2 separate regions of the Homo sapiens genome follow, and region 2 is linked to region 1. The links come from fine-mapping of genetic effects on gene expression. A gene starts in region 1. The other region holds a variant in brackets. All regions are shown on one strand. Distances are from middle to middle. Region 1 holds the start of ZNF169 (zinc finger protein 169). Region 2 overlaps ZNF169 (zinc finger protein 169).

Region 1 (15,679 bases):
CTCCAACATTTGGAATCACATTTCAACTTGAGATCTAAGGGGACAAACATCCAAACCATATCAACGTATAACAAGAAAATAGATAGAATTCATAATGAAAACACTACCTACAAAGATAAGTTCAGTCCCAGATGCCTTCACTGGTAAATTCTACCACACACTTAAAGATGAATTCAGGCCTGGCATGGTGGCTCACGCCTGTAATCCCAGCACTTTGGGAGGCTGAGGCAGGTGGATCACGAGGTAAGGAGTTCAAGACCAGCCTGACCAAGATGGTGAAACCTCGTCTCTACTAAAAATACAAAAATTAGCCGGGCACGGTGGCAGGAGCCTGCAATCCCAGCTACTTGGGAGGCTGAGGCAGGAGAATCACTTGAACCCAGAAGGCAGAAGTTGCAGTGAGCCGAGATTGTGCCACTCTACTCCAGCCTGGGTGACAGTAAGAATCTGTCTCAAAAAAAAAAAAAAGATGAATCCATAGCAATTCTTCGCAAATTCTTCTAAGAAACAAAAGAGGAGAAAACTCTTTCCAACTCAGTCTTTGAAGCAAATATTGCTTCGATATTAAAATCAGAAAAAGCCATCACGAAAAAACTACAAGTCAATATATCTTATGAAATAGGTGCAAATCCCTCAATTAAAAACTAGCAAACTAAATCCAACAACATAAAAAAGGGCTAAATACCACATTCAAGTGGAATTTATCCCAGAAATTCAAGATTAATTTAACATCCAAAAATCAATATAATGCATCATATTGGTGGAACAAAGAACAAACCCCACAGGATTATCTTCATATTCAGAAAGAGCATTTGACAACATTTAAGTGGTTCTGTTCCACTTGAAGATTTATATCTTCAAGATGAAAATATTCAACGACAAACTAGGAGGAGAAGGTAACTTTATTGTGATGGTTAATTTTATTTGTCAACTTAAGTAGGCTAGGGGATACCCAGATAGCGGGTAAGACATTATTAATGGCTGTGTCTGTGAGGGTGTTTCTGAAAAAGATTAGCATTTGAATCAGTAGACTGAGTGAAAAAAATCACCCTCACCAATGTGGGCCGCATCCAATCCACTCAGGGCCCAAATAAAACATAAAAGTAGAAGAAGGGTGAATTCTTTTTTTTTTTTTTTTTTTTGAGATGGAGTCTCGCTCTGTCACCCAGGCTGGAGTGCAGTAGCGCAATCTTGGCTCACTGCAAGCTCTGCCTCCTGGGTTCAAGCGATTCTCCTGCCTCAGCCTCCCGAGTAGCTGGGAGTATAGGTGCCTGCCACCATCCCCAGCTAATTTTTGTATTTTAGTAGAGATGGGGTTTCACCATGTTGGCCAGGATGGTATCGATCTCTTGACCTCGTGATAGGAAAGGTGAATTCTTTCTCTCTGAGCTTGGATGTCTGTCTTCTCCTGCCCTCAGATATTGATGCCCCTGATTCTTGGGCCATCAGGTTCAGGCCAGTACTTATATTATCAGCCTTCAGACTCAGACTGAATTATACCACTGGCTTTCCTGGTTCTCCAGCTACAAGCTGTAGGTCCCATAGTAGGTCATGGGACCTTTGAGCTTTCATAACCATGTGAACCAATTCCTAAAATAAATTTTCTTTTATCTGTTTTATACATGTATATATAAAATTGGCTCTGTTTCTCTGGAGAACCCTAATACAGATTTTAGTGCTGAGAGTGGTTCTAGTGGAACAGAATTTTTAAGATGAGTTTTCTGAATTGGTTCTGGAATTGGCTGTCTAGTATGAATTGATTTAAAGATGTTAATAATTCTATTTCCAGTAGTAAAAAGAGAGCACTGATAATCCATGGTATAAACTAGATAATCCATGGCATGTTCATATAGATACACAAAATATCTGCTTTGGATACTCCCAATCAGCCACTTATAAGAAGCAAGGAGATAAGTGACTTTGTATATGATACTTTCAAACATTTTTGGAAAACTAAAGAATATAATGATGTAGTTGGCTAATGCTAATGTCACTGGACAAAGTGGTGAAAGAAAAAGACAAACTCAGGGATTTGAATTCCCAGGTCAAGTGCTGCATAAATGATCCAAGAGTTTCTAAGCATACCCTGAAGGAGAGCCTTATCTCCTATAGGCACAGGGCTGAAATTGCTGAAAAATCAAATGCAGAACCTCATTCTATGATTGGCTGAATTACAACACAAGTTGAACTCCAAGCCGCATAGGTGTCTACTGTTAAAGTGAGGACATTGGAAAAGAATGGGGTTCTGTAAACTTGGATGACTTTAATAAGGCTAGAGACATTGAGCCTCCAAACTCTGATGAATCTTTTTGCCAGTGGAAGAGGTCTCCCCAACCCCAGAGGAGCTGGCCTCCAAACCTGCAGTGATATTCATCTTTCCACCTCTGCCTGAAGGGATTAACTTTGCATTGCCTGAGGAAATGGTAATGGCCTACCCTGAGGCAGTTGTCTTGCAAGACACTGCTGGTTTTTCTCAAGACCCATACGCACCACCCCTTTTCATTTCTAAACCTATACCTAGACTGAAGTCCCAGCAGGTTCCTGAAGAAGAGGTACAAAGTGTGACCCATGAAAAGGTATACTATATTCCAAAAGAACTGCTTGATTTTCTAGTTTAAACAAGCAGAAACCAGGGAACATGTTTAGGAATCAATATTAAGGGTGTGGGGTAACGGGGGAAGGAACGTAAAGTTGGATCAGGTTGAATTCATTAATATGAGCCCACTAAGCAGAGATTCTACACTTAATGTTTCAGCTCAGGGACTTAGAAAGGGCTCTAACAGTTTGGTTGGTTGGCTGAAACGTGGATCCAAAGATTGACCACTGTGAGGGAACTGGAAATGTGCAACTTCCCTTTGTTTATTTGTTTTGTTTGCTTGTTTTTGAGACAGAGTCTTGCTCTGTCACCCAGACTAGAGTGCAGTGGTGCTCACTGCAAACTCCGCCTCCTAGGTTCAAGTGATTCTCCTGCCTCAGCCTCCCAAGTAGCTGGGATTACAGGCGTGTGCCACCACGCCTGGCTAATTTTTGTATTTTTAGTAGAGACTGGGTTTCACCATGTTGGCCAGGCTGGTCTCGAACTCCTGATCTCAGGTGATTTCCCCACCTCAGCCTTCCAAAGTGCTGGGATTACAGGTGTGAGCCACCGCGCCCACCCATCATCTGCTCATTATTATTCTTTTCCCTGCCCTCTTTTGAATTGAGTATTTTTAATGATTTCATTTGTCCTTTGTTGGTTCATTGGGTATATGTTGGTTGTGTTATTTCAGTTATATCTTTGAGTTTATATTACACATCTTTAATTTACCACAATTTACCTTTGGTGGTATTATACTATTTACACAAAGTAGAACCTTACAACAATGTGCTTCCATTTCAGCCCTGGCCTTTCTGTTATCATAGTTACGCATTTCACTTCTATATATATCATAAACATCACAATACCTTCTTATTACTTTAAACAGTTTATTATGTATTAAAGCTATTTAAATAGAAACACAGCTTTTACATATTCTTTCTAGCATTTTTCATTTCTCTGTGTAGATCCTTATTTCCATCTAGTATCCTTTTCCTTTTGATTGAAGGACATCCTGTTTTTTCACTGGGTAAAAAATTCTAAGTTGATACATTGGCTTTTTTTTTCAGTGCTTTAAAGATGTTGCTCCTTTTACCTTGCTTTTTTTTTTTTTTTTTTTTTGAGATAGAGTCTCACTCTGTCACCCAGGCTGGAGTGCAATGGTGCGATCTTGGCTCACAGCAACCTCCGCCTCCTGGGTTCAAACGATTCTCCTGCCTCAGCCTCCTGAGTATCTGGGATTACAGGTGCGCACCACCACTCCCGGCTAATTTTTGTATTTTTGGTAGAGACAGTGTTTCACCATGTTGGTCAGGCTGGTCTTGTACTCCTGACCTTATGATCCACCTGCCTTGGCCTCCCAAAGTGCTGGGATTACAGGCGTGAGCCACCGTGCCCGGCCGCATTTTTTATTGAATGAAATCTGCTGTTATCTTTGTTCATTTGTACATAATATGTCTCCTCTTTCTGGCTTTTTAAAACAAGTTTCTTTATAGCTGCTTTTAAGCAGTTGTACCTTGGTGTTGTTATTTTCATGTTTCCTCTGCATAGGCTTCACTGAGATGCTTTAATCTGTTGGCTTATAATTTTCATCACATAATTTTCATTTGAGTATTTTTTATCCCTGTTTTACTTTGAATAGTTTCCCCTTCCATGTCTTCAGGCTAACTTCTTTTTCCCCTGAAATGTCCAGTCTGCTGCAATACCAACTGTGTCAGTCAAAGTCTTCCAGAGAAATAGAACTAATAGGATATATATATATAGAGAGAGAGAGAGAGAGAGAGTGAGTAGGATATATGTATATATAGGATATATAAAGAAAAAAGTAATAGGATAGGAAAAAACTAATAGGATATATGTATCTGTATATATATATATATATATGTGTGTATATATACATATATATATTCTATCTATTGATCTGTTTATCAAGTGTTTATCAAGTGGGAGAGAGTGACTGATTTATTTAAGGGATTGGCTCATGCAATTGCAGGGGCTGGCAAGTCTGAAATCTGTAGGGCAGGCAGGCTGAAAATTCAGGTAAGAGTTGATATTGCAATCTTGAGTCTAAAATTCACGGGGCAGGACAGCAGGCTAAAACATCAGGGAGGATTTCTGTTAGAGTCTTAAGGCAGAATTCCTTCTCTGGAAACCTCAGATTTTGCCGTTAAGGCCTTCAACTGATTAGATGAAACCCTCCCACATTATGGAGTGTAATCTCCCTTAAAGTCAACTGACTGAAAATGTTAATTACACATGTAAGATATCTACATGGTAGTATCTAGACTACTACCAAATAATTGGTCATTATAGTGTAGCCAAGTTGACATGTAAAATTAATCATCATACCATCCAGTATGGCATGATGTATAGAAAAACCCTTCTTGAAGTGTTTCCTGTAGCTTCTTGAAGTTGTAGTTATAATAAATGTTTTAGTGCTCTTATCTTGGTTTTTTTTTTTTAGACAGGGTCTCGAAGTGTTTCCTGTAGCTTCTTGAAGTTGTAGTTACAATAAATGTTTTAGTGCTCTTATCTTGGTTTTTTTTTTTTAGACAGGGTCTTGCTAGGGTCTTGCCCAGGATGGTCTGGAACCCCTAGGTTTAAGCAATTGTCCCAATCGTTTTAAGCAGCCTCCTAAGTAGCTGCAACTACAGACGCATGCCACTGTGCCCAGCTTGTGTCCTTACCTTTTAATTATATCTTCTGTGTAATTTCTATTGGTTGACTTTTCTCTTCATTTTGGGGAATATATTCTTTGCATGCTAGCATTTTTTTAATTGGAATTCTAAAATCCAGGGTCTTAGGATGGAAGCAGGTGTAAGAATAGAAAAAAAAAAAAAAAGTCCCCAATTTTGCCTTATTGGATGCTGGATAGTTTTGTATTCTTTTAAATATTCTTGAGCTTTTTATCTGGGATGCAGTTAAGTTACTTGGGAACAATTCAGTCCTTTCTAGGCTTGGATTTAAGCTCTGTTAGGTGAGACCAGAGAAGCATTTAGGTTAATTTTTGCCCCACTATTGAGGCAAAACCCTTCCGAGTACATGACTTGATGCCATGTGAATTAGCATTTCCACTCTGTCTCGTGGGAACAGACATTATTCCTGTTCTTTTTGAGCTCACAGTATTGCCCTCTAACCCTTTCTAGTGTTTTTTACCCCTAATTTTGAGGAGTTTCCTCACATGTACATGCTGGTCAGCACTTAACTAATACCTGAGGAAGAGGACTCTCTGCACATCTCTGGCGCTCTCTCTCCCTTTCTGTACTCTGCCCTGTGAACTCTAGATGCATATGCCTCCTCAGATTCCCAGTTCCATCTCCTCAAGTTGAACTCCATGCTTCACTTGAGTTTCCCTTCTCTGTGCTATGACTTGGAAATTCTCTCCATCTGCGGGAAGTTCAAAGGCTCACCTCCATGATTTCCACTGCTCTTCATTGTCTGATGTCAAATGTCTTCAAATGTTTCATATATTTTGTCCTTTTAAATGTTGATTAAGGTGAAGGGCTAAATCTGGTTCCTGTTACTTCATTTTGAGAAGAAGCAAATAGGAAGTAACTTAAAAATACCACTTTTTATCAAATTCTTAGAAAAAGAGTATAACTCATTTTGCAAAGACTTTGGTATGTTTTTGAGCGTATTATTCTGTTACATCTAATAAACAATCTTTGCATTAGTAAGATAACTTTAATTGCTATAGTGTTAAATGTCCTCAAGTTTAGTTTTTCCTTATCTTCTTGTAATCAATTGGAATTAAAAAAAAAACTTCAGAATCTTCTTCTTTATAACAGGAAAAAAAACCCCAGTATTTTTGGCATTTTTAGAAGTACATTCATACACACTGTCATTTAAAACATGGGGGTGGGAGGTGGAGCAAGATGGTGGAATGGAAGGCTCCACTGATCATTCCCCCTTGTAAGAAAAACAAGTTAACAACTATTTACACACAAAAGCACCTTCACAAGAACCAAAAATCAGGTAAGCACTCGCAGTACCTGGTTTTTACTTCATATGACTGAAAGAGGCACTGAAAAGGTAGGAAAGACAGTCTTGAATCACCAATGCCCCTGACCCATCCCCCAGCAGTGGCTCTGTGGTGCGGAGAGAGAATCTATGTTCTTGGGAGACGGCAAGCACAGCAATGATGAGACATTGCATTGAACTCAGTGCTGCCCTGTTATACCAGAAAGCAAAACTGGATCAAACACAGCTGATTCTCACGCATGGAGGGAGTATTTACACCAGCCTTAGCCCGAGGAGAATCACCTATCCCAGCAGTTGGAATTTGAGTTACTGCCAATCTCACCACCTCTGGCTAGAGGGCCCTAAATAAACTCGAAAGGCAGCCTGGGCCACAAGGACGGCTCACGCCTGTAATCCCAGCACTTTGGGAGCCTGAAGTGGGAAAATTGCTTGAGGCCAGGAGTTCCAGACCAGCCTGGTCAACATAGCGAGACCCAGATTCTTTTTTTTTTTTTTCCCCCTTGAGAAGGAATCTCACTCTGTTGTCCAGGCTGGAGTACAGTGGTGCGATCTTGGCTCACTGCAACCTCCACCTCCCGAGTTCAAAGTGATTCTCCTGCCTCACCCTCCTGAGTAGCCGGGACTACAGGCGCCCATCACGACGCCCAGGTAATTTTTGTATTTTTAGTAGAGACGGGATTTTACCACATTGGCCAGGCTGCTCTCGAACTCCTGACCTCTGATCCGCCCGCCTCAGCCTCCCAAAGTGCTGGGATTACAGGCGTGAGCCACCGCGCCCGGCCGCGAGACCCAGATTCTAAAAAACAAAACAAAAAATTAGCCCGGTGTGGTGCTATGCACCTGTATTCCCAGCTACTCAGAAAGTTGAGGTGAGAGGATTGCTTGGCCAGGGGTTTGAGGCTGCAGTGAGCTATGATCACACCATTGTACTGCAGCCTGGCCGACAGAGCAAGACCCCTTCTCAAAAAATAAGTAAGTAGATAAAGTTCAGGGGTGTACAATCACAGGTGTGAATTTGCAGGATGGAGGACATGTAACATCTTTTTAAAAAAAAAAAAAATTAGAAGGACCGTATAAAAAGTTAAAGAAGACTTACTGCTCACCTGACCACCCTTCTCATAGACCCGAAAGTTAGATTTTACTTTCTGATTTTTCACAATTTCTCCTGGATGCTGCGGTCCCGCCCCTCGCAGCATTCTGGATGTTGTAGTCCCTCGCTCCAGGGCATCCACGGTAGGGTAGTTGCGCGCCCCGTGGCAGTCTGGGTAGTGTAGTTCCGTGCCCAGGGGCAGTCCGGCTCGCGTACTTCCGCGTTCCGGCATCGTCGCCTGGTGCGTGGTGAGTGTCCTTTCACAGTTCTGGTGAGCTAGCCCGGAGGTGGTCCCCGCTTTCGCGGGCCTTCCACTGGAAGGAAGGTCGGGAAAGCTGGCATGGGCAGTCCATGTCGTGGCCACATGTTCCTTGGTGTTTTGAGTTTCGGCTGTGGGGTCTGGGCGTGCGTGGTCCACCCCGGAGAGAGGTCTTGGCGGAGGTCCTCTGGTGGGGAGGGGGCGTTGGCGTTGTCGCGTGCTTCTGGCGGGACTTTGGGCCCAGTATGTTGACCTGGAGGGGCCAGTGCAGGCCTGGGACCGACTTCCCGAGCTACTTCGCAGGTGCGTCCCCGGTACTTCGGGGGCCGCTGAGTGGGCTCTGCCTGGGGTACCCAGACAGCATCCTGCCACTAGTATCCCGCCATCCCCTCCCCACCATCGCGCCTCGGAGGTCTCTGGGCCAGCAAATGTGCCTTTGGAGGACATGATATCCTCGGTTGGAGCAAACTTCCCCATTAGTGGGAGGCACGCGGCTTGGGCATCAGTCGGGTTGTTTATTTGTTTATTTATTAAATTTTATTTATTTATTTATTTATTTTTGAAACAGAGTCTCTCTCTGTCGCCCAGGCTGGAGTGCAGTGGCGCAATCTCGGTTCACTGCAATCTCCGCGCCCCACCCCAGCCGCCGGGTTCAAGCCATGCTCCCGCGTCAGCCTCCCGAGCAGCTGGGATTACAGGCACCCGCCACCACGCCCGGCTAATTTTTTGGTTTTTGTTTTGTTTTGTTTTTTTGAGACAGAGTTTCGCTCTTGTCGCCCAGGCTGGAGTGCAGTGGCGTGATTCCCCTGCCTCAGGCTCCCGAGTAGCTGGGACTACAGGCGCACGCCACCACGCCCGGCTAATATTTTGTGTTTTAGTAGAGACGGGGTTTCACCATGTTGGCAAGGCTGGTCTCGAACTCCTGACCTCAAGTAATCCCCCCGCCTCGGCCTCCCAAAGTACTGGGATTACAGGCGTGAGCCACCGTGCCCAACCTCAGTCCAGTTATTAGGGCTCTTGTGGATGGCTGGTGCACTGTGGTGGTGATGGTGCAGCTTGGCCACTAGGACCCGGGTTTGTGGGGGAGGATTGTTTGTGGGTAGACATCCAGACTTGGTCTTGATAGTGGGGGGGGGGACGGCTAGGGCCGTGCGACTCGGGTCAGTAGCCTTGGGGCCTGGGGACCCAAGTTGGTGAGTTGAGAAGGGCTTGCCTGGAGTTAGACATCCCTGGGTTGTGGGTTGCATGGGGGCGTGCTTGTATCCAGATTGTCGGCTTCTGCAGCTGTGTGGCTCCCTCGGACTTGGGGACCCTTCCGGGAGCATGGGTTGCAACAAGCAGAATGGTGCCCATAGGGCCAAGGAACATTTTTCTCAAGCCTCAGGGGGCTGTTGAGTGACTCCTTGAATTCCTGGAGGTGGGGGAAGAAGTTGGGTGGAAGGCATCCAAACCTACATTTTTTTTTTTTTTTTTTTTTTTTTTGAGATGAAGTCTCACTCTGTCGCCCAGGCTGGAGTGCAGTGGAGTGATCTCAGCTCACTGCAACCACGGCCTCCCGGGTTCAAGCAATTCTCTGCCTCAGGCTCCTGAGTAGCTGGTACCACAGGCGCCCGCCACCACGCCCGGCTAATTTTTTTTGTATTTTTAGTAGAGACGGGGTTTGTTTTTTGTTTGTTTGTTTGTTTGTTTGTTTTGAGAGGGAGTCTTGCTCTGTCGCCAGGCTGGAGTGCAGTGGGGTGGCGCGGCGCGATCTCGGCTCACTGCAAACTCCGCCTCCCGGGTTCAAGGTATTCTCCTGCCTCAGCCTCCCGAGTAGCTGGGACTACAGGCACGCGCTACCACACCTGGCTAATTTTTGTGTTTTTACCATGTTGGCTAGGATGGTCTCGATCTCCCGACCTCGTGATCCGCCCGCCTCGGCCTCCCAAAGTGCTGGGATTTCAGGCGTGAGCCACCGCACCCCGCTCGAGACGGGGTTTCACCATGTTGGTCAGGCTGGTCTTGAACTCCTGACCTCCTGATCCACCGGCCTCGGCCTCCCAAAGTGCTGGGATTACAAGCGTGAGCCACTGCGCCCGGCCAAGACCTACTCTTATTTCTAACTTCTCAGTATGAAAACATTGCAAAGATATCCAGAAGTAGTTTTGAAGTTCCATGGATTCATCACTCAGATTCACCACTTACAAATGACTCACCTGTCTTCTTTCCCCCAAATCTGCAACCCCAAGTGTGGATCTCTTTGGAAATTGTCTCTTTCACTAGGGGTCTATACCAGGATTTGGTGTCTTGAGTGACCCTTCATAGAGTGAGTTCAAATCCAGGTCTCTCCCTTTGTCACTGTCACTTTGAGCAAGGTACTTAACCTCGTGGAGCTGCTGTGAATGTAGAACGAAGTAAAACTTGTGTATGACACTTCTCTGATGTAGTTCTTTAAAACAAAATTCAAATGTCATATCATTTCATCTGTAAATGGCAAAAACCACAATTACTTTTGCACCAATCTAATACTTCAGTGTTCAGTATGCATCTCTCATAAATAAGGAATTTAAAGAAAAACAACTTCAGCATTAATGATCATACCCAAGAAAATTAACAGAATTTATTTAGTATCACTTATTCAGGCTGTGTTGTTTCCGTATTTGTCTCAAAAGTTGCCTCACTACAGATATTTGTCCACTACAAAGCTTTCCTGAGTTTTCTCTGGCAGAATTACTTCCATTGTCCTTTTTAGTTTCAGAGCACTTTATTATATGAGGACTCCACGGCTGGCATGGTATATCTCAACTGTCTGACTGTCCCACTGGTTTTGAGATAGTTCTTTGAGGGGACAGGCACCTTGTCTGGCTCCTCATGGGTCACTGACACAGTGCTTGGCACCCACCTGGACTGTGCAACTGACTGACTTTGAGGGTATCAGTTGTCTTTTTTGCCTGGAAAAGGAAGTTCATGGAGGATAGAAACTCAGATGGGAAAAGGGGGTTAGGCTATTACTGGGGAAAGCCTAGGGTGCCAAGATTGTGTGTGGATCTTATCTGAGGTCAGCGAGATCTACTGCCGGGTTCTGACAAGAGAAGGGTCATGATTTCTTTTTTTCTTTTCTTTTGTTTTTGTTTTTGTTTTGAGACAGAGTTTCACTCTGTCGCCCAGGCTGGAGTGCAGTGGTGCGATCTCGGCTCACTGCAACCTCTGCCTCCCAAGTTCAAGCGATTCTCCTGCCTCAACCTCCTGAGTAGCTGGGCTACAGGCGTGCGCCACCATGCCCAGCTAAATTTTTTTGTATTTTTAATAGAGACGGGGTTTTACCATGTTGGCCAGGATGGTCTTGATCTCCTAACCTCGTGATCCGCCTGCCTCGGCCTCCCAAAGTGCTGGGATTACAGGTGTGAGCCACCTCGCTTGGCTGAGAAGGGTCATGATTTCTGACTACACTCATTACCCTATCTCTCTGCTCCCTTTTACAGTGAAAGTCATCAAAAAAATTGCATGCACTTGATGAATGCAGTGCCTTTCTGTGCATCATCTATTTAATTTCCAAGTATTTGGAGGGTTTCTAGCTATTCTTACTGACTTCTTATTTAATTCCATTCAGGTCAAAGAACAAATGATGTAGAATGTCAGTCTTTGCAAATTTATTGGGAGTTATTTCACAACCCAGCATGTAGTGTGAGTTGGGGAATGTACCATGGGCCCTTTAAAAGCATGTGCATTCTGTTGAGCAGTGATGAGCTAATATCAGTTTGGTCAAGTTAGTTATTATGTTCAAATCTTGTATTTCCTTATGGATTTTTTTTTCTAGTTATTTTATCAACTGTTGTGGCAAGGTGTTAATTCGAACTAGGATTATGGAATTGCCAATTTCTCCATCGAGTTCTGTCAATTTTTGCTTCACGTATTTTGAAGCATTGTTATTATAAGGTGCATACATATTTATCTTTGTTATATCTTCCTGATGAATTGACTGTTTTATTTTCATGAAACATCCCTTTGTATCTCTGGTAACACTTTCTCTTGAAATGTAGTTTATCTGATAGTAATATAGCCATTTCAGTCTTGTTATGTTTACTCTTTGCATGTTATCTCTTTTCTCATTCATTTTCTTTCAACTGACCTATGTCTTTATATTTAAAGTCTTTATATTGTAGACAACATATGGTTAGGTCTTGCTTTTTTTTTTTTAATCTATTCTGATAATCTGTGCCTTTTTTATTTATTTTTAGAGACGATGTTTTGCTGTGTTGCCCAGGCTATTCTCCAACTCGTGGGCTTAAGCAATCCTCCTGTCTCAGCCTCCCAAAGTGCTGGGATTACAGGCATGAGCCACCGTGCCCAGCCAGTCTGTGCCTTTTAATTGGAATGCGTATTTCATGTAATTACTGATACAATTAGATTAGGTCTCTTTTACTGTTTGTTTTTTTATTTGCCTCCTGTTTTTTTTCTTCCCCTGTTCCTATTTCTGCCTTCTTTGGGCCAATTGAATTTTTTTTTTTTTTTAGCATTCTAATTTAACTTAATTCAATATAACTTAATTGCCACTTAGCTATAGTGCTTTGCATTTTTACTTTATATTTTTAGTGCCTGCTTTAGAGATGACAGTATATATTTGTAACTCTTCACAGTCTATGTAATGTCGAACAACTTCATGTAAAATGAGGGCTCTTGTAATTGTATAGGTACTTGTACCTACCTACTCCGTCATTCTTCAGGCTGTAATTGTCATATGTATTGAATCTTCATATGCTGTCAATCACAATGCAAATATAATGTATTTGCTATAAACAGTCTTTTATTTTATCTTTTTGAGGTGGCGTCTTGCTCTGTTGCCCAGTCTGGAGTGCAGTGGCACAATTTTGGCTCACTGCAACTTCTGCCTCGCGGGTTCAAGCGCTTCTCCTGTCTCAGCTTCCGAGTCACTGGGATTACAGGCATACGCTACCATGCCCAGCTAATTTTTGTATTTTTAGTAGAGATGGGGTTTCACCATGACCAGGTTTGTCTTGAACTCCTGACCTCAAGTGATCTGTCCACCTTGGCCCCCCAAAGTGCTGAGATTACAGACGTGAGCCACCGCGCCTGGCTTCAGTTGTATATGTTAAAGAAATTAGGAGAAAAAAGAAATAGTCTTTTTTGGGTGTGAACGTTATTTATCGTTTCTGGTGATCTTCAATCACCACAGAAAATCCAAGGTTCCATTTGGCATAATTTTTCTTCAGTTCACAAAAACTCTTACAGGGCAGGTCTGCTGACGATAAATTTTACTGGTTTTCTTTTACTTGAAAATGTCTTTGAAGGCTTTTTAAAAATCAGATTTATTACAAAATCACAACTCTTAAGTGTACAATTCGATGAGTTTTAAGTAATGTATATTGTTGTGTAACTGATTTGCTCCCTATCACTAAAGTTTTGCCTTTCCTAGAATTCCATGTAAATGAAATCATATAGTACGTATTCTGTTTCTGCCTTCTTGTTACTTGATCAGTAGTTTATTCCTATTCCTTTTTATTGTATTTTGTTGTATGATTCTACTACCTTTTGTTTATCCATTCTCCTTTTTCTGTTGTTTTTGATTGTTAGGTATAGTAATTAAGCTACTGTGACAATTCTTGTACAATTCTTTTTTTTCCAGGGTTCTTTTACTAGGCTGATGTATATCTCTTTCTGTACCCTGTTTTTTTTTTTTTTTTTTTTAATATCTCTTAGGTACTTTGGGAATTGCCAGATCATAGGTATGTTTAACATTAAAAAAAACCTGCCATACAGTCTTCAAAAATAGTTGTACCATTTTACAATCCTGTTCCCGGACCAAACTGAGGGTCAGGCTGCTATTTTTCGTGGCCCAATAACGAGATGCAGATGAACTGGGGAGGAAGAGAGTTTTTATTTCTGTAACCGGTTACAGGGAGAAGGCCTGGGAATCATCACAAAACTCAAAATTACAAAGTTTTGCCAGGCGCAGTGGCTCATGTCTGTAATCCCAGCACTTTGGGAGGCTGAGGCAGGCGGATCACTTGAGGTCAGGAGTTCGAGACCAGCCTGGCCAACATGGTGAAACCCTATCTCTACTAAAAATACAAAAATTAACCAGGCTTTGTGGCAGGCATCTGTAATCCTACTTACTTGGGAGGCTGAGGCAGGAGACTCACTTGAGCCCGGGAGGTAGAGGTTGCAGTGAGCCAAGATCGCCCCATTGCACTCCATCCTGGGGGACAGAGCGAGACTCTGTCTCAAAAAAAAAAAAAAATTACAAAGTTTTCCAGAGCTTATATAACAAGCTATATCTCTATGTGTAAGTGTGCTTTCATCTAAATACATAAGTGATTAACTTCTTTTAATCTATAACTAAGGTCTGAGTCCTGAAGACTTTCCTCTGGAGCCTCAGTAAATTTATTTAATCTAAGTGGGTCCAGGTGCTGGGGTGATTACCCTTATCTTATCTCCTGCTAAATCATGGAGGCTTGGGGAGTTCCCTCAGATCCTCAGTAAACTTGTTTGTGGAGACCTAGGGAGTTTCTTCAGACCCACAATAAAACTTGTTTAATCCTAAATGGGTCCTGTTAAGAATTCCTTAGTTATTTACAAAAAAATGGCTGGGCATGGTGGCACATGCCTGTAATCTCAGCTACTCAGGAGGGTGAGGCAGTAGAATTGCCTGAACCCGGGAGGCAGAGGTTGCAGTGAGACAAGATCACACCACTGCACTCCAGCCTGGGCAACAGAGAAAGACTTTGTCTCAAAAAAAAAAAAAAAAAAAATTCTTAGTTATTTTGTCATGCTTTAAGGCTCAGGAAAGGCCTAGGCAAAATTGTTGATGGGCTTTTGTTACATCCTAGCCTTTGTATAAGGGCACTGACTTTTAATATTTAACTTAACCACTCAGTCAGTACTGAAACAGTTCTTAGTGAGACCTGACCTGCCACAATCCCCACTGTCAATTTGCACATGATTTCTATCATGCTTGTATATTTATTTGTCACAAGAATTGTAGGGAGATGGGGCATTATAATCTTTCTGGCTACTTCCTGCTGAGATGGGGTCGTTGTTACGGAGCATCGAACGCAGCGCTGGAGTGAAAGAGTTCAATTTGTTCCCAGTAGCAGTCTCTGTTTTGGGGGCATAGAGGCAGCGCCTGCTGAAACATAGTAGTGTGCAACAGCAACACATATAAATAGGTTGCCACTGTTTTCTTCTGAAGTTTAAGTTGTCTAGTCTTCAGTTCACAGGGCTTCAAGAAGGCACAGCTTAGGTTTCAGTGGTTTCAAATTAGGAAAAATAGGGAAAAAGGAAAAGAAGGAGGAAAAAATTGAAAACATTATTTTGGAGACCTGTAGACAGAAAAATTAGAATTTAATCCAAATTGTAGAAAATAATAAAAACTGAAAAACATCAGGTGAAACTAGAATTTAACAACAGGTGTACTGTAGTTTTTGAAACATAATTTTTCTCTTTCCAGTTTCCCATTTTTATTAAAAGATAAATCATGGTAGAACTGGTTTGCTTCATTGTACTTGGCCTAATTATTTGTATACAGTGCAGAAAGAATAATTATTTTTCGTGTAGGCCTTTTTTTTTTTTTTAAGACAGAGTCTCACTCTGTCACCAGGCTGGAGTGCAGTGGCGCGATCTTGGCTCACTGCAACCTCCGCCTCCTGGGTTCACGCCATTCTCCTGCCTCAGCCTTCCGAGTAGCTGGGACTACAGGCGAGCGCCACCACGCCCAGCTAACATGTAGGCTTTTTAAATTGGCTTTGATGGAACTTTGTTTCATAGAAGGAATCTG
Region 2 (15,679 bases), 38 kb after region 1:
AAAAATACAAAAATTAGCTGGGCTTGGTGGCAGGAGCCTGCAATCCTGGCTACTCAGGACGCTGAGGCAGGAGAATCACTTGCATTCGGGAGGCAGAGAATGCAGTGAGCTGAGATCGTGCCATTGCACTCCAGCCTGGGTGACAGAATGAGACTCTGTCTCAAAAAAAAAAGCTATACAGTGAAATACACTAAGAAACACTGTAGGCAAATCAAGACAGAATTATAAAAAAGTTTGAGTAACCCATGAGAAATTTGTAAAGAAAACAAAGAGGCAAAAAGCCCAGAGAACAAACAAATAAAACTTAAATGGCAGACATTCCAACCAATAAGAACAGAATGCATATTCTTTTCATGTGCCTTTAGAAACACAGATGAAGTTAGACATATCCTGGGCCATAAACCAACATAAAGCAAAAATTTCTTTAGTTAAAAATATTTTTTCTAATTTAAGTCATGTAATGTTGGTCATATCGATAGGCTAAAGAAGAAAAATCATGATTTTATCAGTTAATGCAATAAGACTTTAGCAGAATTCAACAACCATTTGTAAACAAAACAAACTCTCAGTACAATAGGAACAGAGGAGAATCTTCTAAAAATCTGCAGCTAACATTCTTTTTAAAATTTTGGTAATACATAACACAAAATTGACTATATATTTTTACAATTCAGTGGCATTAAGTACATTCACATTGTTATACAACCATCACCACTTTCCAGAATTTTTTCATTATCCCAAATAGAAATTGTGTATCCATTAAACAATAACTCCCCATCCCCACTCCCCCCAGCCCCTGGTAACCTCTGTTTTACTTTGTCTGTATGAATTTGCCTATTCTAGGTACCTTACATAAGTGGAATCATATATTTGTCCTTTTGTGACTGGCTTATGTCACTTGGCATATTTTCAAGGCTTGTCTCTTAAAAACGTCCATCAGAAAAGGTCCCTCCTTTTTAAGGCTGAAAAATACTCCATTGTATGTGTATACCACATTTTCTTTATTCATTCATTTTTATTCATTCACATTTTCTTTATTCATTCAGTTGATAAACATTCAAGTTGTTTCCAGTTGTTGTGAACAGTACTGCTATGAACATTGGTGTACAAGTATCTGTTTGAGTCCCTACTTTCAATTTTTGGGGGTATATTCCTAGGAGTGGAATTGTTGGATCAGATGCTAATTATATGTTTAATTTTTTGAGGAACTGCCAAACTGTTTTTCATAGAAACTGTATTGTTTTACATTCCCATCGGCAATGTGAAAGTTTCCAATTTCTCCATACCCCACAAAAATATGTTTTTCTTTTTTCTGGTAGTAGTTATCCTGTTTGTGGAACAGTATTTTTTATTTAATTTATTTTTAAGTAAAAAAATTTTTTAAACATCTACTCTGATTCTGGTCTATGGAACAGTATTCTTTTTTTTTTTTTTTTTTTTTTTTTGAGATGGAGTTTTGCTCTGTTGCCCAGGCTGGAGTGTAGTGGTGTAATCTCGGCTCACTGCAACCTCCGCCTCCCAGGTTCAAGCAATTCTCTGCCTCAGCCTCCCAAGTAGCTGGGACTACAGATGCTTGCCACCATGCCCAGCTAATTTTTGTATTTTTGGTAGAGATGGTGTTTTACCATCTTGGCCAGGCTGGTCTTGAACTCCTGACCTCATGATCCACCCGCCTTGTCCTCTCAAAGTGCTGGGATTACAGATGTGAGCCATTGCATCTGGCCAGAACAGTATTCTTAATGGTGAAAGATTAAATGCTTTCCTTCCATGATTGGGAACAAACCAACGTTATATCTGTTCTTACCACTCTCATTCAACATAGCGCTGGAAGTTCTAACCACAGCAATAAGGCAAGAAAAGGAAATAAGAGACATACAGATCATTAACAAAGAAATGAAACTGTTCCTATTTGCAGAGGACATGATTGTCTATGTAGAAAATCTCAAGGAACGAAGGGAAAAAAAGCTTTTAAAGCTAAGTAAAGTTTAGTCAGCTTGCCGTATAGAAGAAAAAACAGACAAACAATTGTATCATATGTCATAGCATGAACATATGGTCACTGAAGTTAAAATACAGTACCATTAAAATTACTTAAAAAAAAGAAGAAAGCTGAAGAAATTCTTAGGTGTAAATCTAACAAAATGTGTAGGGTCTGTTTGCAGAAAATCACAAAATGTTGATGAAAGAAATCATAGACGGTCTAAACAAATGGAGAGACATACTGTGTTTATGGATTTGAAGATCCAATATAGTAAAGATGTAAGTTCTCACCAAATTGATATACAGGTTTAATGGGAATCCTATCAAAATTTCAGCAAAGGCTTTTAGAGATATAGACAAGATTATTCTAAAATTTGCATAGAAAGGCACAGGCACAGGCTATTTTAGAATAGCTAAATCAACTTTCAACATGAAGAATAAAGTGAGAGGAATCGGTTTACCTGATTTCCAGTCCTGCTATGTAGCTGCGATAATCAAACTTGTGTGTTTGATCAGCACAACAGAGAGCCCAGAAATAGAACCAGCATCAGTGTATGGAGGGGATTAATAGTCTTGAATATATGGAACCAGGTTTCAGGTTAAAAGCAGGATCTGTAAATCTCACTTGGGTGCTCTAGGACTGCTTCTTTCTGCCTTGACTGTGGTTAGTGGCTTAAGTTGGTTAGTGGGCATGGCTGGCTGTTGAGTGAGCAGGGATGTGTTTGTGTTACAGGCATTGATGGCCTTCCGGGATGTGGCTGTGGCCTTCACCCAGAAGGAGTGGAAGCTATTGAGTTCTGCTCAGAGGACCCTGTACAGGGAGGTGATGCTGGAGAACTACAGCCATCTGGTCTCCCTGGGTAAGGCTGGCCTGTTTAAGGTTTCAGATTCTGCTTGTGGGTATTTTAAGCTCTTACATAGCAAGCTGCCATGCTTCTGACTCAGAAAAACAGTTTTTTCCCCTATTCCCCCAGAGAATGCCTGGCTTTCACAGTGCAGTTGTGTGTGTGTGTGTGTGTGTGTGTGTGTGTGTGCGCGTGCACATGCTGTGAGCGTGTGGTGTGTCTGACACTGCATTTTTCAGGCCTGTTTACCCTGGCTGGGCTCCTCCTCTAAGGTTATCCTCCTTCAAAAGGAGGAATATTTTTATTGACTCAAGCACAGGGTAGAATCAACATACTGCCTTTAGGTCTAGGATCCCCTCCCTGTATGCATCCTTTCTTAGCATTCAGACATAGTTTACTCCACCCCTGCACCTCCCTACCACCTTCTGGGTTTATTGCATTCCTGGGTTGGCTCTGAGTTCTGAGATAGCCTCTTAAGCCACTAACTCAAGATCACCTTGGTTTTTTTTTCCTGTGAGTAGGAATTGCATTTTCCAAACCAAAACTCATCGAACAGCTGGAGCAAGGCGACGAACCTTGGAGAGAGGAGAACGAACATCTTCTGGACCTTTGTCCAGGTGAGTGGGAAGCCCTGGGCAAGCGAGGGTGCAGGGCAGTGAGGAGCTCAGCAGGTAAGGAAGGAGGGGCTATCTTTGAGGTGCTAGGAGGAAGTTCTTCTTCAGGCCTCCTAGGCCACTGGTAAAGGCTGCATGGCACTGCCTGCCTTCCACACTGTGTGCCTCCCCCCAGGACAGGGCACCCCTGGCATTCCATCTCCTTCCTCCATCAGGGAGCCTCACTCCTCACTTGGCTTCCTTTCTCGAGCACATTCAGGATTTCTCCATTCTTGGGCTCATGTGGTTGGCATGATCTTCAAAACAGTACCTGTCCTTTGAGACTAAGTCCCTGCCCCTGGTTTTTTATTTTTATTTTTATTTTTTTTGAGACAGAGTCTCGTTCTGTCACCCAGGCTGGAGTGCAATGGCATGATCTCGGCTCACTGCAACCTCTGCCTCCTGTGTTCAAGTGATTTCTCCTGCCTCACCCTCCTGAGTAGCTGGGACTACAGGTGCCCGCCATCATGCCCAGCTAAATTTTTTTGTATTTTTAGTAGAGATGGGGTTTCACCTTATTGGTCAGGCTGGTCTTGAATTCCTGAGCTCAGGCAATCCATCTGCCTTTGCTTCCCAAAGTGTTGGGATTACAGGCGTGAGCCACCACGCCCAGCCAGTTTCTATTCTTAACCTGGTAGCTTTTTTGTGCATCATTTCTATCCTGTAAATTCTCATAACTTTGTTTCTTTTATCATAGATTATTTAAGATTACAGCAAGGTGTGAAAAACTGTACAATGAGTAGGGTTGGGGCAGCCCTGTACCCTAAGAGATAGCATGTTATAAAACCAGGTAATAGCCCCATACTTTTCCTGATTGTGTCCCGTTCCTCCGCCTCTGTTTTCTGAGTTAGCATTCCATGACTGTCTTTATCCTTTTATTCCATCTGATGGGTTCTTCACTCATATAGGGTGTTGTTTTGCATGTCTGTAAACTTCTCTGCACATAATGTTATTAAGTTGTTTCCAACTTTTTGGCTATGAAATAATCTTGCTCTGTATTCTTGTATGCCTCCTTGGGAACATGTCCAAGAGTTTCTCTTAAAATATATACCGGCCAGGTGCAGTGGCTCACACCTGTAATCCCAGCACTCTGGGAGGCCGAGGCAGGTGGATCACGAGGTCAGGAATTCGAGACCATTCTGGCCAACATGGTGAAACCCCGTCTCTACTAAAAATAGAAAAATTAGCTGGGTGTGGTGGCGCATGCCTATAATCTTAGCTACTTGGGAGGCTGAGGCAGGAGAATTGCTTGAATCCGGGAGGCGGACGTTGCAGTGAACTGAGATTGCGCCACTGCACTCCAGCCTAGGTGACAGAGCGAGTCTCCATCTCACAAAGAAAAAAAAAAAGATATATACTTAGGTGTGTAGTAGCTGGTTCACAGGCATGCATAGCCTCAACTTATATAAGTTATGCCAACTTGTGTTCTGAAGTGGGCATGGCAGCTTATGCTCCCAGCAGGAGTCTATGAGAATTCTTGTTGTACATCCTCACCAACATTTGGGATTGTGAGACCTCATGTTTTATCCATCTATTCAGCTGGAAGTGAAATCTCAGAGGGGTTTTTAAGTTGCTTACTAGTGAGCATGAGCATCTTTTCATATGTTGCTTGGCCCTTCCTGTTTCCCCATCTGTGATTTGACCATTCAAGGTGTTTGCCTACTTTTCAATGGGTCTATTCTTTTTGTTATTGATTTGTAGAAATCCCATATAAATTATGGAAACATTTAGGTCTTTAACTGGAATTAATTTTATATGAATGCTGGGAGATAGAAATAAATTTTTGCCTGCTTTATCTTCTTACTTGTTTATTTTCATGGTTTCCTGGCATTTTATTTTTGTTTTATTTTTTGCTTTTAAATGTAACTATATAGCTGGTATTACACTATGTAGCAACTGAGTGCTTTTGTCTTTTTAAAAGCATTTCGTTATATAAAAATGGGGTGGGCACAGTGGCTCACGCCTGTAATCCCAGACTTTGAGAGGCTGAGGTGGGTGGATCACTTGAGGCCAGGAGTTTGAGACCAGCCTGGCCAACATGGCAAAATCCCGTCTCTACTAAAAATACACAAATTAGCCGAGCCTGGTGGTGCATGCCTGAAATACCAGCTACTCGGATGGCTGAGGAGTGAGAATCGCTTGAACCTGGGAGGCGAAGGTTGCAATGAACTGAGATCACACCACTGTACTCCAGCCTGGGCTACAGAGTGAGACTCTGTCTCAAAAAAAAATAAAGTAAAATAATGATAAAAATGTTATTAAGATACAGCAATTAAGGTATATTATAAGATATGTTTTTTAAGGTATAATAAACTACACTTATATAGGTGTGAAATTTGGTTAGTTTTGGCATATGTATACATGCATGAAAGCACTGCCACAGCTAAAGTAACAAGCATGTCTGTCATCCTTGAAAATTTTCTTTCGCCTTACTGTAATCCTACCTCCCACTCCTTCCTGTCCTCCCCTGTACCTGGGCAACCACTGATCAGCTTTCTATAATTATAGATTTGTCTGCATTTTCTAGAATTTGTATAACTGGATTATACAGGATACAACTGGATTCTTCACTCAGCATAAGTATTTTGAATTTTATCTATAATGTGTGTATCAATAGTTTATTAATTTTTATTGCTGAGTATTCCTTTATATGTCTAGGTCACATTTTAATACTGACCTATTAAAAGGTATTTGGGTTTTCATTTTTGACAAATATAAATAAAGCTGTTTTAAGCATGCAAGTTTTTGTGTGAATATAATGCTTTCATTTCTGTTGAATAAATACCTGGGACTGGAATGGCTGGGTTGTATGATGATGGATACAATATATATTCAACTTTTGAAGAAACTCACAAACTGCTTTCCAAAGTGGCCGCACCATTTCACATTCCCACAGCAGTGTATGAGAGCTCCAGGTGTTCCATATTTGTCAAAACTTGGCTTGGTTATTAATTTCAGACATTCTTATAGCTGTGTAGTGAGTGGCATCTTACCGTGGTTTTAACATTTTCTTAATGACTGATGATGTTGAGTATCTTCATGTGCTTATTTGCTATCTTATATCTTCTTTAGTGAAGTACGTTTTCACATCTTTTGCCCATTTAAAAATGTGGTTTCTTATTTTTGTATTATTGAGTTTGAGAGTTCTTCACATATTCTATGTAGAAGTCCATTATCAGATATATGATTTACAAACATTTTTTCTGTGGTTTACTTTCTATAATCTTAATAGTGCCTTTCAAAGAGAAATTTTAATTTGGATGAAGTCCAGTTTTCAATCTTTTCTCTTATGAATTGCAGTTTTGGTAGTGTATTTAAGAAATTTTAGTCTAAAGTAAGGTCAAAAAGATTCTCATTTTTTTCTTTTAGTAATTTTACAATTTTTAATTACATTTAGGTCTATAAGCCTATTTTGAGTAAATATACTTGATAAAAGATCTGAATTTATGTACTTTTTTAGGGGAGGAAGGGCATACAAATATCCAATTTTTCCAGCACCATTTATTGAAAACACTACCCTTTTTTAACTGAATTTCCTATGTATCTTTGTGGAAGATCAGTTGACCATATGTGATAGGTCTATACCTGGACTCTATGTTTTTTCTACTCCTCTGTTAGTGTCTCTATGCCAATACCACAGTTTTGATTACTGTAGCTTTATTAGGTCTTGAACTCACTGTAAATCCTCCATCTTCTTTGGGAAGCTTAGGCAGGCGGATCACAAGGTCAGGAGTTCGAGACTAGTCTGGCCAACATAGTGAAACCCCATCTCTACTAAAAATACAAAAAAAACTAGCCGAGTGTGGTGGTGCGCACCTGTAATCACAGCTACTCGGGAGGCTGAGGCAGGAGGATCGCGTGAACTCGGGAGGCGGAGGTTGCAGTGAGCCGAGATCACACTATTGCACTCCAGCCCAGGCAACAGTGCGAGACTCCATCTCAAAATAAAATAAAATAAAATAAAAAATCCTCCATCTTTGCTTTTTTTTGCAAGTTCTTTTCGTTATTCTTTGTTTTTTCATATGAATTTTAGAATCAGCTTGTCAGTTTTTAACAAAAATGCCTGCTGAGATTTTGATTGGGATCGAGTTGAATCTGTATCAATTTGTGGAGAACTTACACATAAATAATACTGTGTCTTACAGTACGTGAACACAGTATAGCTCTCCATTTACATAAGACTTCTTTCATTTTTGTCGGCATTGTTTTGTCATTTCTGGTATACAGGCCTTACATATCTCTTGTCAGATTTGCCCCTAAGTATTTCATATTTTGATGCTATTTTTAAGTGTCAATTTTCAGTTGTTTATTGATGGTATGTAGAAATAAAATGGATTTATGTATAGTGATTTTGTATGCTGTAATCTTGCAAAACTCACATCTTTTTCCACTGGAATATTTTAATATGAAGGACCTTCTCTGTATTCCAGATGGAATGTGAATGGCAATCCCTAAAGCTGCTGAAGTTCCCTCTTGCAGATATGATCTTACTGACTCTAATCAATGATACAAAGAGTTTTTCTTAGGAATAGTATGGTCAAAAATAAGAAATACGTATTTTGTGATTAAAAATAGTTAACAAATAGAATAACATATAAATCAGTATTGTATTTATAATCGTCTGCCTTGAACCAAGGGTCTTCTGTTAAGTAGTTTAATTCCATTAAATTGTTCACTTCTGTTCTGATAGGGCACTTGAAACCCTGATTCAGTTTCTTGCTATGGGTTGCTACTTGCCAGGTACATTTCTGATCAATGCTCTTAAAAATTTGTTCCAGGGGCTGGGCGCGGTGGCTCACGCCTGTAATCCCAGCACTTTGGGAGGCCAAGGCAGGCGAATCACTTGAGGTCAGGAGTTTGAGACCAGCCTGGCCAACATGGTGAGACCCTGTCACTACTAAAAATACAAAAAATTAGCCAGGCGTAGTAGGTGCGCCTGTAATCCCAGCTACTCAGGAGGCTGAGGTGGGAGAATTGCTTGAACCCAGGAGGTGGAGGTTGCAGTGGGCTGAGATAGTGCCACTGTACTCCAGCCTAGGCGACAGTGCGAGACTCCTTTAAAAAAAAAAAAAAAAATTTGTTCAAGGAGACTCAATTTCTAATCTGAGTTAAAAAGCAGGAGTCTTTAAACAAAAGTAAGATAAAAAAGATAAACTAGCCATGAATAAGAAAATGCCTTATTTTTCTCTTACCAAATGCTTTGCTTATTCACTACAGCAAACAATTTCAGAGATAATGAAAGCAGACTTCTCTATTGAGGGCTGTCCCATAATGACTCATAAGAACTTAGTCCTGCCGAGCGCAGTGGCTCATGCCTATAACCCCAGCACTTTGGGAGGCCGAGGCAGGCGGATCACCTAAGGTCAGGAGTTCGAGACCAGCCTGGCCAACATGGTGAAACCCCGTCTCTCACCTAAGGTCAGGAGTTCAAGACCAGCCTGGCCAACATGGTGAAACCCGATCTCTACTAAAAATACAAAACTTAGCCGGGCATGGTGGTGCACGCCTGTAATCCCAGCTGCTCAGGAGGCTGAGACAGGAGAATTGCTTGAACCAGAGGTTGCAGTCAGCCAAGATCACGCCACTGCACTCCAGCCTGGGCAACAGAGCGAGACTCTGTCTCAAAAAAAAAAAAAAAAAAAAGAACTTAGTCAATAATTACCTAGGAGTTACGGTATCAACTTACGGAAGCTGAAAGCACTGCCAATTTCCAGAGCCTTTAATTTATACCATCATGGGAATTAGTGTTATCTCCAATTGGCAGCCTATTTAAACCTAGAAACAAAATTTTTTGAAAAAGTCAATTTGTATAGTTTTAACAGTTTTTGTGCATGGATAAGAATATGCTTAAGCCGAAATATGTATAATCCCTGAAACATCTTTATGCTAATGAGAAGTCATCTATTATTAACTTTCAAACGCTGAGCTTCTCCTTAATTCACCAGATTTTTTTAAAAATCCTGGATTATTGAGCAAAACAGTGTACGTAGTGTTGTGCAATGCTATTCGGGGAATATACTTGGCTGCAGTCTTCCCAGAGGCTAGAGGACAGCACCTTCATTTGCC[C/A]GGAGGGCAGCATCAGGGATTCCTCTTCTTCAAGAGGACTTAAGGGTGTCCATACAGTTCAGGAGACAACTCACATCAGGCTGATATGGAAGCTCCCTGGCCTAAAGCCTATTCCACACAGGAGCCAGTATCTCTTGCTACAGCTTATCTGATTCGTGGGTGCCCCTTACTTGAGTCACCACAGTCAAGGAAGCCCAAAGCATGGCTCCCCTTCAGATGCTAAGATCTTATTTATAGCACCTTCAAGATCATAATCAGTCTGTTTCTTAACTGCAGCTCAGACACCAAGTTCTTGGCTCTTGCATAAACAGCAGGCCGAACAAATGTTTCTCAGGCAAGGTTTAATAGGCTTGAGCTGGAGCAAAAGCAAGGGAGCGGCGCCCAAGAAAGGAAGATAAATGTGTAACTCTACTTGCAGCAATTTATAGAGCTGAAGCTGCCTGTGATGCTTTTTTGAACCTTTTAGTTTGGCTGATAGGACTAGTTTGTAGTGTGGGTTTTCTGTGCTGCAATAGAGCATGTAATGTGCCCTTGTGGGTTGGAAGATAAGTCTTTGTTGTGAACATCTGAAGAAAACTGCTGGGCAGGTATTACAATCCATGGTCACCTGTGGTGATTCTGACCAAGACTTTCTCTCTAGCAGAGCCTAGAACAGAATTCCAGCCAAGTTTTCCCCACCTGGTGGCCTTTTCTAGCTCGCAGCTCCTCAGACAATATGCGCTAAGTGGCCATCCCACACAGATCTTCCCAAGCTCATCTGCAGGAGGTGACTTCCAACTAGAAGCTCCAAGATGCTCTAGTGAAAAAGGAGAAAGTGGAGAGACAGAAGGCCCCGACAGCTCATTAAGAAAGAGGCCAAGCAGAATTTCTAGGACATTCTTCAGCCCACATCAAGGTGACCCAGTAGAATGGGTAGAAGGGAACAGAGAAGGAGGAACAGACCTTCGCCTGGCCCAAAGGATGAGTCTTGGGGGGTCAGACACAATGTTGAAGGGAGCAGACACTTCAGAATCTGGAGCAGTCATACGTGGAAACTATAGACTGGGACTTAGCAAAAAGTCAAGCCTGTTCAGCCACCAGAAGCATCATGTGTGCCCTGAATGCGGGAGAGGCTTTTGCCAGAGATCAGACCTTATCAAGCACCAGAGGACACACACCGGGGAGAAGCCATACCTGTGTCCTGAGTGTGGGCGTCGGTTTAGCCAGAAGGCCTCCCTCTCCATACACCAGAGGAAGCACTCGGGGGAGAAGCCGTATGTGTGCAGGGAATGTGGGCGACACTTCAGGTATACATCCTCTCTCACTAATCACAAGAGGATTCACTCCGGGGAGAGGCCCTTTGTATGTCAGGAGTGTGGGCGAGGCTTTCGCCAGAAGATAGCCCTCCTTCTACACCAGAGGACGCACTTGGAGGAGAAGCCCTTCGTGTGTCCTGAGTGTGGGAGAGGCTTTTGCCAGAAGGCATCACTCCTCCAGCACCAGAGCTCACACACAGGGGAGAGGCCCTTCCTGTGCCTTGAGTGTGGGCGTAGCTTCAGGCAGCAGTCACTCCTCCTTAGTCACCAGGTCACACACTCAGGAGAGAAGCCTTATGTCTGTGCTGAGTGTGGGCACAGCTTTCGCCAAAAGGTCACTCTCATCAGGCACCAGAGGACACACACAGGGGAGAAGCCTTACCTGTGCCCCCAGTGTGGGCGGGGTTTTAGCCAGAAGGTCACCCTCATTGGACACCAGAGGACACACACAGGGGAGAAGCCCTACCTGTGCCCTGATTGTGGGCGTGGCTTTGGTCAGAAGGTCACCCTCATCAGACACCAGAGGACACACACAGGGGAGAAGCCTTATCTGTGCCCCAAGTGTGGGCGTGCATTTGGCTTTAAGTCGCTCCTCACCCGACACCAGAGGACACACTCAGAGGAGGAGCTTTACGTAGACAGGGTGTGTGGACAAGGACTTGGCCAGAAGTCACACCTTATCTCTGACCAAAGGACACACTCAGGAGAGAAGCCCTGCATTTGCGATGAATGTGGGCGCGGCTTTGGCTTTAAGTCTGCCCTCATCCGACATCAGCGGACCCATTCTGGGGAGAAGCCGTATGTCTGCAGGGAGTGTGGGCGTGGCTTTAGCCAGAAGTCTCACTTGCATAGACACAGGAGGACCAAGTCTGGTCATCAGCTCCTACCCCAAGAGGTCTTCTGACCTTTCCTTTCCCCGTGAGTGTGAAGCTGGCAGAAATCACTAGTAAATGCTTCAGTTTCCTGAAATGGAATGGAAAAAAAAAAATGTTGCTTTCTTTCATCGATCATGAGATAGTTGATTTTTGGTTTACTTTCTATATTCACAATTTGTCTTGGCTTGCTAGGGGTTCCATAACAAAGTACCCCAGGCTGGGTGATTTTGACAACGGAAATATATTTTCATATTTATGGAGGCTGGAAGTCCCAGATGAACGTATTGGTAGGTTTGGCTGCTGCTTAAGCCTCTCTGTTTGGCTTGCGGATGGCTGCTTTCTGGCCACGTCCTCACGTGGGCTTTTTTCTGTGTGTATGCTTTCCTGGTGTGGCTTCCTCCTCTTCTAGGGACACCAGTCATTTTGGATAGAGCCACAGCCACATGGCCTCGTTTAACCTTAATAACCTTCCTAAAGGCCTTATCTCTAGATACAGTCACACTACACAGTTAGGACTTCAACATATGAATTTCTGGGAAACCCAATTTAGTCTATAACACTCCACTACCAAAGTTCAGGTCCCTCAGACATTCAAAATACATTCACATGATCCCAACAGTCCCAAAATTCTTTACCCATTTCAACTTCACCTCTAGATCCAAAATCTCATTTAAATATCATCTAAATCAAGTGTGAATGAGACTTTAGGTACAATTCATCCTTAGGCAAAATTCTCCAGGTGTGATCCTGTGAAACCAGACAGATATCTGCTTCCACAATATTCTACAATGGTGGGACAAGCAGAGGCTGGACTTCCCCATTCCAAAGGAAAGACATGAGAAAGAAATGAAGAATGATGGATCCCAAGCAAGTCTCAAACCTGGCAAGGCAACTTCCATTAGATTTTAAGTCTCGAGAATAATCCCCTTTGGCTCAGTGCTCTGCCTTCTGGGCCAACTGGATTGGCAGCCCTGCTTTTTAGGCTCACGGGAGCTGCAGTGTCGCTCCCTTGGCCCTTGGCAGCGGCTCCTGGCCCACTGAAATTGAGGAGGAGACACACTTGCCCTCTAGACCTGTACTCTCTGGGCCCATTAGAACCTTTGAGAATCACATTCTTCCCTTTTCTTGAAGATTAACGTGCGTTTGCAACTGGATAGCTCTATTGTACCTTCCCGTAGAATCCCAGAAGTCTAACAGCCTGCCTTCATTTTTGTCCTGTCTCTTTCTCTATTCAGTTCAAGCTGGCAGCATTTCTGGTGAGATGGTTAATTGGTTCCATTCAGACCTATACTAATCTCTTTATCACATGGTTGTCCAGCCACACCCTAGTGTTCTTTCAAGAACATACTTTCTCATTTTTTGCAATGCGGACAGGCTGAGAATTTTCCAAATCTTTAAGTACTGGTTCTTTTTTGCTTAACAGTTCCTTCAATTTATCTTTCTCCTCTAATATTTTACTATAAGCAGCAAGGAGAAAACAGACTCCACTTGCATCACTTTGTGTAGAAATATCACCTGAATATTCTGCACTGCCTCACTCACAATTTCTGTACTCCACAAAACACTAGAACGCAATTTGGGCAAGTCCTTTGCAAGGATTCCAGTTTCCCATTACCCATTCCTCATTTCTGTCTGAGACTTAACCACAATCACCTTAAAATTAAAAACAAAACAAAACAAAACAAAAAAAAACCCCAAACATTTTGTAGATACGGGTTTTTGCTATGTTGCTTAGGCTGGTCTCATACACCTGGCCTCAAATGATCCTCCTGCTTTGCCCTCTCAAAGTGTGAGCCACCACACCCAGCCCAGAACCTTTTAACATCTACATTCCTACCAACAGTGTTTTAAAGGTCATCCAGGCTTTTCCTAACATGTGCCTCAGAACTCTTGTAGCTTCTTTCTACCGAGTACCCAGTTCCAAGTCACTTCCACATTTTAGGTTACAAAGCATCCCAATCACAGTACCAAAATCTGTATTAATTTGCTAGGGCTGACATAAGAAAACACCAGACTGGGTGCCTTAAGCAATAGAATATTTATCTTCTCACAGTTCAGGAAACTGGAAGTCCTAGAATGAGGTGTTGGCAGGTTTGGTTTCTACTAAGGCCTCTCTCCTTGGCCTGCAGATGGCTGCCTTCCCTCTGTGGTGTCTCATAGCTTATTCTTTGTACACACACTTTCCTGGTGTCTCTCATTAAAAGGACACCAGTGATACTGGATTAGGGCAACACCCTAAAGACCTTGTTTTAACCTTAATTACAACTTTAAATGTCCTGTATGCAAAAACAGTCACACTGGGGATTAGGGATTCAACATATGAATTTGGGTGGGGAGGGACACAATTTAGTCCATAACACTCTGCCTTCTGGACTTCCAAAATTCGTATCTAGCCGTGAGCGCCTGCCATAAGAGTGCTCTCTTGAATTCCTTTCCTTTCTCCATAAGTGTGAAGATGGCAGAAATCAATAACAGATGTTCCACTTTCCTGATATGGAATGGAGGAAAAAGAGTTGCTTTCCTTCATTGATCATGAGATAGTTGGTTTATGCTTTACTTTCTGCACAGTGGTCCTTTGTATTTTATGGTCTTTTGTTTTAATAAACTGCTTCTCTACAAAGCTGCATACCTGGCTATGTACCTCATTCACTGATACTTTGAGGAGAACCCCAAGGCATTCAACCTCTTCGGAGACATGGAGGAATTACTCTGCGTATTTATTCTAGGCTACTGTCCTATGGGACAGGGATATTACGGTCTTCAACCTCACCTCTTCCTAAGTCTTCCATTGTCTGTGATGAGAGCCACTGGCCACATGCTCACCTTCCCTGATGCCAGATTGAAGGGCATTTATTCACATCCCTGTCATGTTAGCTATGCCTACGTGCCAGTGATCCAGCCCTTCAGCCACAACCTTCCTTAAAACTCCAATCAGGAGCTAAGGCTCTGAAGCCACCCACCCTTCTATCCAGCCCAAGACACTGCCCCCTTAGTTATAGTCCCTCCTGTTCCCTGATCCCCAGAGCCCAAATGCCCCAGATCCTGACAAATGCCTACACCAAGAATGGCCCTGGCCCTGTTCCTTCAGCACCGAATGTTTACTGCATGGTCAGTCTCCCCAGTGCTTGGAGCCACTGCTGGCTCAGAGGGGTTTTTCACCAGAATGAAAAGAGATTTTAGTTTGGAAGAATTTGCCTTGGGAGGATAGATGAAAGAAGAATGACAGATGGAGGTCACTGACCCCAGCATCTCAGCTGGAGACAGTCTTTGGGTTAGCTTTGGTGGGGATGCCCTGAGACCACTGGGGACAGCCCTTATCAACACATTTTCACTGAAGCCATTTTGCCTCAGCGAGTTATCCAGTGGCCAGAGCTGAAGTCACAAGGGAAGCGTGTGTGTGTGTGTGTGCACGTGAACGTGCACACGCATATGTGTGGTATGGGGTCATTTCATGCCAGCAGTTTAAAAATTTCTACTGAGAATATAAATAGAAGTAATAACCATTCCAGCATATATATTGACCTTGTACTTGAAAGTGTTTTTCCATAATGGAAGTTTCTATGGCCATTCACCCAAAATGGACCTGATAAATGATATATAAATAAAAAACAGGCTGGGTGCAGTGGCTCACACCTGTAATCCCAGCACTTTGGGAGGCCAAGGTGAGTGGATCCCTTGAGGTGGGGAGTTCGTGACCAGCCTGGCAAACATGGCAAAACCCCGTCTCTACTAAAAATACAAAAGTTAGCCGGGGCGTGGTAGCAGGCACCTGTAATCTCAGCTACTCGGGAGGCTGAGGCAGGAGAATCACCTGAATCCGGGAGGCGGAGGTTGCAGTGAGTCAAGATTGCGCCGTTGATTCCAGCCTGGGCGACAAGAGCAAGACTCCATCTCAAAAAAAAAAAAAGAAAGTGTGTGTGTGTGTGTGTGTGTGTATGGAACTTTTTAAAAAATAATATCTCTGC

Evidence for each region.
Region 2: its variant is fine-mapped to the expression of ZNF169 in prefrontal cortex (GTEx, PIP above 0.99).

Annotation. Positions count from the first base shown.
Region 1 is chr9:94,251,452-94,267,130 of GRCh38, forward strand. ZNF169 (zinc finger protein 169) reads left to right here and starts at 7,847. Exons shown (of 5, transcript NM_194320.4): 1 at 7,847-7,894. It overlaps LINC02603 (long intergenic non-protein coding RNA 2603), which reads right to left and starts at 7,860. Exons shown (of 3, transcript NR_160773.1): 1 at 7,660-7,860. RefSeq lists enhancers at 7,366-8,011, 7,850-8,169, 8,012-8,658, 8,200-8,329, 8,659-9,304.
Region 2 is chr9:94,289,628-94,305,306 of GRCh38, forward strand. ZNF169 (zinc finger protein 169) reads left to right here. Exons shown (of 5, transcript NM_194320.4): 3 at 2,714-2,840; 4 at 3,347-3,442; 5 at 10,188-12,202. The coding sequence ends at 11,743. Among named protein-coding and RNA genes, the nearest start is that of NUTM2F, 31 kb to the right of the region's middle. The variant C/A (reference allele first, on the strand shown) is at 9,545.